Linked DNA regions of Homo sapiens. The protein of the gene in region 1 interacts with the protein of each later gene in a biochemical or structural test. Each region holds a gene or a part of one and is shown on either strand. Other genes may lie near its edges.

What was found.
Region 2: of the proteins of CUEDC2 (region 1) and MAPK1, one has a biochemical effect on the other in vitro, tested with the Homo sapiens proteins (one study listed by BioGRID).

What each region holds. Positions count from the first base shown.
Region 1 is NC_000010.11:102,429,617-102,434,180, forward strand, and holds the start of CUEDC2 (CUE domain-containing protein 2), read right to left. Parts: upstream 2,959-4,564; 5' UTR 2,910-2,958; intron 1-2,909.
Region 2 is NC_000022.11:21,857,517-21,861,325, forward strand, and holds part of MAPK1 (mitogen-activated protein kinase 1), read right to left. Parts: intron 1-3,809. UniProt on the Homo sapiens protein: Serine/threonine kinase which acts as an essential component of the MAP kinase signal transduction pathway. MAPK1/ERK2 and MAPK3/ERK1 are the 2 MAPKs which play an important role in the MAPK/ERK cascade.

The DNA.
Region 1 (4,564 bases):
AGCCCTCATGGGCCCTGAGGAAGAGCAGAATGGCTCAGCCCAGGCATACTAGATCCCATCATGCAGCTCCCTCAGGGTAGAACCGCCTCCAGGGACCTACCTCGACCCTGGGTTACATCACCCTCGAATCCTGGGCTGTCAGTTGCATGGTAGCCTCTGCCGGGACAAAGGCCCATGGCTGCTGCATGAAAGCCCAGTTTCTTTCTTTTTTTTTTTTTTTGAGACGGAGTTTCGCTCTTGTTGCCCAGGCTGGAGTGCAATGGTGTGAACCTGACAGGGTCAAGCAATTCTCCTGCCTCAGCCTCCTGAGTAGCTGGGATTACAGGCGCCTGCCACAACGCCCAGCTAATTTTTTGTATTTTTGGTAGAGACGGGGTTTCACCATGTTGGCCAGGCTGGTCTCGAACTCCTGACCTCAGGTGATCTGCCCACCTTGGCCTCCCAAAGTGCTGGGATTACAGGCATGAGCCACCTGTGTGGTGGTGACTGAAACTTGGCTGAAAGCCCAGGTTTTCTTTTTTTTTTTTTAATTTTATTTATTTATTTATTTATTTATTTATTTTACTTTTGAGACAGAGTTTCACTCTTGTTGCCCAGGCTAGAGTGCAATGGCGCGATCTTGGCTCACCGCAACCTCCACCTCCTGGGTTCAAGCGATTCTCCTGCCTCAGCCCTCCTGAGTAGCTGGGATTACAAGCATGTGCCACCATGCTCGGCTAATTTTGTATTTTTAGTAGAGACAGGGTTTCTCCATGTTGGTCAGGCTGGTCTCGAACTCCCGACCTCAGGTGATCTGCCCGCCTAGGCCTCCCAAAGTGCTGGGATTATAGGCGTGAGCCACCGTGCCCGGCCTGAGAGCCCAGTTTCTAGGGAAGAAGCTTCTCAGGGATGTGTCTCATGCTTCTGGGTTTTTAGCCAAGGCCTGGGGGCCAGGGAATTTTTAGGAAACTCTTCACTGTCCCCAAATAAAAAGACTTGCTCCCCTAAGCTTTTCTCTAGTTTGTATTCCAAGGGAACATCCTCCCTCCCTCCTCCTGTTTTTGGTCTACCCAAACTTCACCCAGGCTTCTAAGCTCTTTTACCCTTCCCCATCCCCGGTAGCCTTCCTAAGTACATCCTTCCTGCTCAGGGGCTCCTAATACTTCTCCCCGCATAGCCCCTGAGTTGGGGAAGATCTGGTCTGCCAGACTGGTTTCCTAAGTAGCACCTAAGCAGCCACCCTTCTCCAGGGTAAGAACATGATTTCCATGAGACATTTCAAATTCCAGATGTAGCCCACAGAACCCCATTGCTTCTTGGGGGCCGCAAATTAGAGATCATTGGTTGATGGTGTCTACCAAATGTGACTGTCATCCTGTCATGAGTCCTGCCTAAATGCCTCCGATGATGGTAATATTAGCATTTATTGCCTCTGCTTACGAGGCATTGTCCTAAGCACTTTTACATGTATTAACTTACCTAATCCTTACAATAACTCTAAAATGTAGATACTGTTATTCTCCCCATTTTATTTTATTTATTTTATTTATTTATGTATTTTTGAGACGGAGTCTCGCTCTGCCATCCAGGCTGGAGTGCAGTGGTGCGATCTCAGCTCACTGCAACCTCCACCTCCCTGGTTCAAGCAATTCCCCTGCCTCAGCCTCCTGAGTAGCTGGGATTACAGTCGCATGCCACCATGCCTGGCAAATTTATTTTGTATTTTTTAGTAGAGACGGGGTTTCACCATGTTGGCCAGACTGGTCTCGAACTCCTGACCTCAGGCAATCCACCCGCCTCGGTCTCCCAAAGTGCTGGGATTACAGGCATGAACCACCGCGCCCGGCCGTATTATCCACATTTTACCTGAAAGGAAATGAAGGCACTATGAGGTTAAGTAACTTGCCCAAGGTCACAAGGCAAGTTAATGGCAGATTTACACCCAGGCTGTCTGGATCCAGAACCCTCACTGTTAACCACCACACTACATCACCTCTCACGATGCAAATTGTGTGGCCCCATCCTATATTCTGAATCTCCTCTCCTGCCTGGCTGGCTATATTGTCTATTTCAGAATCTTTGCTCACACCACTCTCCCAGCCCAGAGCATCTGTCCCTCTGCCTCTCCAAATCTCATTCTGCAGGACTCCCTTTCTGCAGCCAACCCTAACTGCCCCACCTTCACTGCTCCCAGCTAGCCTGGGAGCTTCCCAAGGGCAGCACAGGCCTGGACCCTCCAGATGCTAGATAGAGACACTGTGGACAAATTTAAGTGAGAGTGGGGTAAGAAGTACTATGCTGCTCCCTTGGGGTGGGGAGGTGCTTAAAGTGGAGGGAGAGCAGGCCATGTGGGAGGAGGAATCCTGGGAGCTAGTGTGAAAGGAGTCCTAGCGAACTTCTCAGGGAGGCAGCAAGGGGTCTAGCATGGAAGGTCTTCACTGCTTCTCCCAGCCCCTGTGAAGCCCGGTTCCTGAGGCCCTGGACCCATAACGCAGGCCCCAGAGGATATCATTGTCCTCTGATACCCAAGTCAGACCTTAGAGGCACCAAGGGCATTGAGGGGAACAAGGGATCCCTGCATCCAAAGTCAGGCGGGAGCACAAACAGGGAGGGCGAGCACAGGAAGTGGGACCGCGATGATGGACGACCCCTGAAGCAGCAGCTCCCTAAACCCGCTAGCGGGACACCCGTAAGCGTCCAGAATAGTGGGCCCGAAGGCACAGGGATGCGGCTGTGGCCTTGGAGGACACATGACGAGGCAGGCCTGAGCAAACTGGATGTGCCTTGATACAGGCCACGGCGAGAATCAGAGATGGGGGTCCGACGGGCCCCGGGGGGGGTACCGTGGGGGAACACATCGGACGGGTACCCTGGGTCAGCGCTCTCCGCGACTCTCCTAGCCCTGGGCCGGGGGCAGGAGGGGAAATCACCTGCTCCGTCGGGCGCCGCCGGCGACTTGTCCCGCGCGGTGCAGCTCTCATCCCCCAGCCCCACCAACGAGATCAAAGGCGGGGCCCAGAGCGGTTCCCTTCCAGAGGCGCCGTGGCGGCCATGTTTGAGAAGGGCAAGTTGCCCACAACAGGGCGGAGCTCCTGCTCTAATTCTCTAACGTCCCAGGGCTATGGACGGGCTCCCTTGGCGGCCAGTTTTGTTGCGCGTAGGGAGGCGTTAGGCGTGAAGGTCTTGAGAGGGGGTGGAGTCGAAGTGGGTAGGACTGCATCCCCGTCTTGTTCCTTCTCATCCGTCAGAGACCCGAAACCTTTCTCTTTCTTTCTCTCTCTCTTTTTCTCGTCTCTCTCTCTCTCTCTCTCTCACTTTTTTTTCCTTTTCTTCTTCTTTTTTTTTTTTGGGAGGGAGCCTCGCACTGTCTCCCGGGCTGGAGTGCAGTGGCGCGATCTCGGCTCACTGCAACCTCCGCCTCCCGGGTTCAAGAGATTCTCCTGCCTCAGCCTCCCGAGTAGCTGGGATTACAGGCGCGCGCCACCACGCCCAGATAATTTATTGTATTTTTAGTAGAAACGGGGTTTCACCATGTTGGCCAGGCTGGTCTCAAACTCCTGACCTCGTGATTCGCCTGCCTCGGCCTCCCAAAGTGCTGGGATTACAGGCATGAGCCACCGCGCCTGGCCTCTTTTCTTTTCTTCTTTCTTTATTTTCCTTTCTTTCCCTCCCTCCCTTCCTTCCTTCTCTTTCTTTTTCTTCTTTTCTTGCTGTTACAGCCCCAGGCTGGAGTGCAGGTTCACGAGTGCGAACATGGCTCACTGCAGCCCCGACCTCCTGGGTTCAAGTGATCCTCCCATCTCAGCCTCTGGAGTAGCTGGAACCACAGGCGCGTGCCACCACGCCGAGCTAATTTTTTTTTTTTTTTTTTTTTTTGTAGAGACAGGGTTTTTGCCACGTGGCCCAGGCTGGTCTCTTAGGTACTGACTTCCCCACCCTGTCTGTACCTTTTGCATTCCCTTAACAGCAATGTCTCCCCTAGATTGGGGTGAGCTACAGGTCTGTGTCTCCGGAGGGTGGAGCCTGGGATTTTGGACGTGGTCTGGGAGAGGTGGAGTGGTAGCAGGTGCCAGGATGAGGATCCACCTGAGCCCTGTCATGGACAGCCTGTAGACCATGCCTACCCCCCGGGGCCTTCATCCCCCATGTTGGCAGGGCTGCTTGTCTAGGACAGGAGAGCTGAACTCCAGGGCCCAACAAGACTTCAACTTCCTCTTTTTGTTCCTGCTGCCACAGATTCCCGGTGCTGCCCTGTGGGGAAGCCCCACAGCCCTCCCCTCTTGGGAACCCTGAAATGGGTCACAAGGGGAAGAGTCCCCTTCAAGGATAAAATTTCCCATCCCCCATCAGCAGGGATGAGCCCTTTTTAGTGCTAGTTCCTTCGTGGGGTGCTGGGGACCCGGAAGCTGTCCCTGCCCTCAGGGAGCTCACAGTCCAAGAGAGAAGTCCCATCTTTCCTCTCTCCTAGGGACTAAGGCAGTGCCAAGATACTATGCTGCAGTGGCTCACACCTGTAATTCTAGCACTTTGCAAGGCTGAGGTGGGAGGATCGCTTGAGCCCAGGAATTTGAGACCAGCCTGGGCA
Region 2 (3,809 bases), on another chromosome or scaffold:
AAAATGAAAAACAGAACAGTTGCGTGGGTACTCGGAAGTAAGGTTTCTACTGCATGTGTATCACTTCCATACCATTGTAAAGTCATCTGACCACCAAGCCAAATATTTGTACTTCTGCACATGCTGCTTTACATAGAGACCGAGACAAAGGGGGATTCACATCTTGTCAACCCTGTTTACTTCAAAGGAATAACAGAGCATTAACTAGGTACCAAGTGCTCAGGACTTCAAGTATACTGTTTTATTTAATACTCATGACAATCCTTTGACCCCTTACTTGTGACTGGCAAGTTACCCAACTTTTGTTTCATTTTCCTCATCTGTAAAAACCGGAGAGTGATACACACTCCCTGGAGAATGACAGGGAAAACAGTACCAAGAACTTTAACCTAACAAGTCAGAAATCAATGAGACCCCTTTTGACAATTCCCACCTTGCCCTTTAGACATTCCGAGATATGCAGCTTTATTTAATAAATGACCCCACCTTGGGCCTCAGCTGACTAGACCAGAGGCAGACACTCTCCCAGGCTGGAAAGGCCAGGTGGAGTGAGCTGTTCTGTGCAGAATGATCTCCCTAACAGTGTTTTTACACATTCTGTTCCACTTGGAATTGGATTCAGAGTGTTCTCAGCCTCTGGTCATCAAAAAACCTGAAGACACATACCTTCAGGGAGCTAGGGTCAGCTCTCCTCTGCTGAGTGCATGGGGAAGTGACAAAAGAGAAAAGAGGGGGGAAAATCCAGCTGCTGAGAGATGTAGGGTACAAGAAGCTTTTGTAACTGTAAAGAGGGAGGGAGGTAGCTACGTTGGTCTATTTTCCAGTTCCTGGTTCCAACTATACCTAAAGCTTTAACTGCACTTTCTATCCTTGCAGTAATATGACAAAGGCCCCCAGATCTTAATCATAAACTTTTCATTTTCTATAATGCAGTCTCTACAAAGTAGTGCCTAAAACATTCCAGCACTCTACCCTACCTTTTACCCAGCTAGCTCTAAGTCTTCCTTCAGGTCCCAGCTTAAACACCACTTCCTCCCGGAAACCCTTCATGACTACTCAGAATATCTTATATCATCCAGTGGCACTCCACACCTCACCATACTCAGTAAATGTTATTACTGCCCTGTTGGACTGTAAACACCAAAGAGTAAGAACAACTTTTGTTCACTACTTTGTTCCTACTGCCTAGCACATAATCCGGTACGTGTTTAATAATATTAAATGAATGAAAATCAAGAAACTGGTAGAGGTAACTAGAAGGAATGGGAAGAAATCAATACTGCTTCCTGATAAAAATTAAGTTGCTAGATGACAGATCCTTTGGAGATAAAGAAAAAACAAAAACAAAAAACAAAGTTACTTTAACTCTAATCCTTTCTAGCCTCTTCTTCAGGTCTGTCTGCAATGGCATAATCATTTTATACTTTAGGGCTAATCCATTCAGGAACCCAGGCTGTAGGAAGTACGTTTCTAGGTAACTCGGTATAACAGAGAAAAGCCTATAGTAGTTAAAAGAAAAAAGGTCACAGGATTTGGGGTCTGCATAAATCTCAATTTACATCTCAGTTCTGCAATATACTTACTGGCTGTGAACCCTGAACGAGTTACCTGACACCCAGTTCCCTTATGTGTAAAGTGCAAAATATAATACCTCAAAGACAAGGATGACGGTCAGGCGCGGTGGCTCACACCTGTAATCCCAGCACTCTGGGAGGCTGAGGCGAATGGATCACGAGGTCAGGAGTTCAAGACCAGCCTGGGCAACAGGGTGAAAGCCCATCTCTACTAAAAACTACAAAAAAAAAAAAAAACTTAGCCAGGTACAGTGGCAGGCACCTGTAATCCTAGCTACTCAGGAGGCTGAGACAGGAGAACTGCTTGAACCTGGGGGCAGAGGTTGCAGTGAGCCAAGATCGCGCCACTGCACTCCAGCCTGGGCAACAGAGTGAGACTCTGTCTCAAAAAAAAAAAAAAAAAAAAAGACAAGAATGAGAATGAAGCTTAAACCAGCAAGGCAGGCTTGCAACTAACATTAGTCAGTTGATCATGGCATATTATCCATGCAGACACCTGCTATCCAGCTCCTACTGGCCATAGGTTCAAACCCCAGGGCCTGCCTTGAGTCTGAGAATCTGGGAGGGACCTTGGAGACCATCTATCCTGTGGGTTGCCCAACATCATTTTCAAAGCAATCAAATCCTTTTTCCAAATGGGATCTTGCCCTGCTAACCCTAATAGTTACTACCTATGTGAACTGAAGATGATAATGACTAAAAGGAAATTAAGAAAAAGAAAAAAGACTAAGGGCAGAGGAAGAAGGGAAACGGGAGGGGAAGGAGGTAGATAAGAGAAGAGCAAAGAATAGAAAAAACAGGGATTAGGGGAGAGAATGCTGTATGTGAAGTTTCCCTATTTGGGGTGAGGCCTGAAGCCCCTAAGAGAGGAGGAGATTTGAAAACCACAGACAGAGCCCAGTCCTTTCATGTTATAGCAGGGGAAATAGAAACACATAAATTTTGTTCAGCTGCCTATAGCTTTCTCCTCCTGTGGTTCTGCTCAGTTTCCAGAAAGCCTGGGTAACGTCTGAATCCTCCTGGAATCTCTCTTCTTCCTTCTGGTACGGTGTGGGCCATTTCAAAGCTCAGGCAGGTGGCCTTTCCTAGAGGGAGCAGAGACAGCGCAGCTACTGGATGAGCTCCTAGGCACCTTTCAGTGTGGGAGCCTCAAGAAGTGAAAGAAAAAAAGCAAATCTAAAGGGGAGCAAAATAGCATCTCAGGATTAGGCAAGAGGGTGGGTGGAGTAGGCCGGAGGCAAGGAGCTCTAGATGTTTGTTGGGGAATGAGGTGTTTTTCAATTAATAGGTATATAAATTGTGAGCAAGGTGAGGAATAAATTACATACAGTTTTGGGGAAAAGTCAACTTGAATTTACACAAATCAGATTATGGGAATGGTGTAATGGTTATAGCTAACTACCAGGAATACATCATTAGGGATGCTATTAATATAAAAATTAATTTTGTTTTGACTTATCCTTTTACTCTAAACTCTGCTCAGAAACACTAGATTCTTCTGTTACTCATGTAAGCTGCTGTCCTTGCATCTTTGAGCTCCAAAAGTGTAGAGGAGACTTCTTGATTAAAAAAGTTAAGTAAACAATGAGCAAGCAAAATTAAGAATCTCAATATCTCTGTCTCCAGGTCTAGAGTTTTTATATATGATATATGTTATTGCTGTTCCTGCCTTTCAAACAGGTGGTACAAACACCCAGCAGAGATCCATGAAGAGAGTGCATTAACAGGAAGCAATAGGGCAAAGTTCATAGAGATGAGCTTTAGAGAAAAGCGGGACTTAAATAGAGCCTGATGTTTCTTGGGGCAGGCTGGGGTGCTGTACTATGGGCATCTTGGCAGGATGATTCTCCAGTGGAGGGAGTGTACCGTGCAATCCAGACCATTTAGCATGTCTGCCCTTGACATGCCTACTGACGGCCAATAACACCCCCTAATCAACGTGACAACACAACAAAAAGCCGCCCCCCTATACATTTCCAAATGCCTCTGTAGCAGGGAGGTAAAATCACCCCCACTGAGTACCACGAGATAAAGTAGGCACAATGCGGCCAGGTGCAATGGCTCACGCCTGTAATCCCAGCACTTTGGGAGGCCGAGGCAGGTGGATCACCTGAGGTCAGGAGTTTGAGACCAGCCTGGACAACATGGCGAAATCCTGTCTCTACTAAAAATACAAAAATTAGCCAGGCATGGTAGCACACACCTGTAATCCCAGCCACTCAGGAGGCTGAGGCA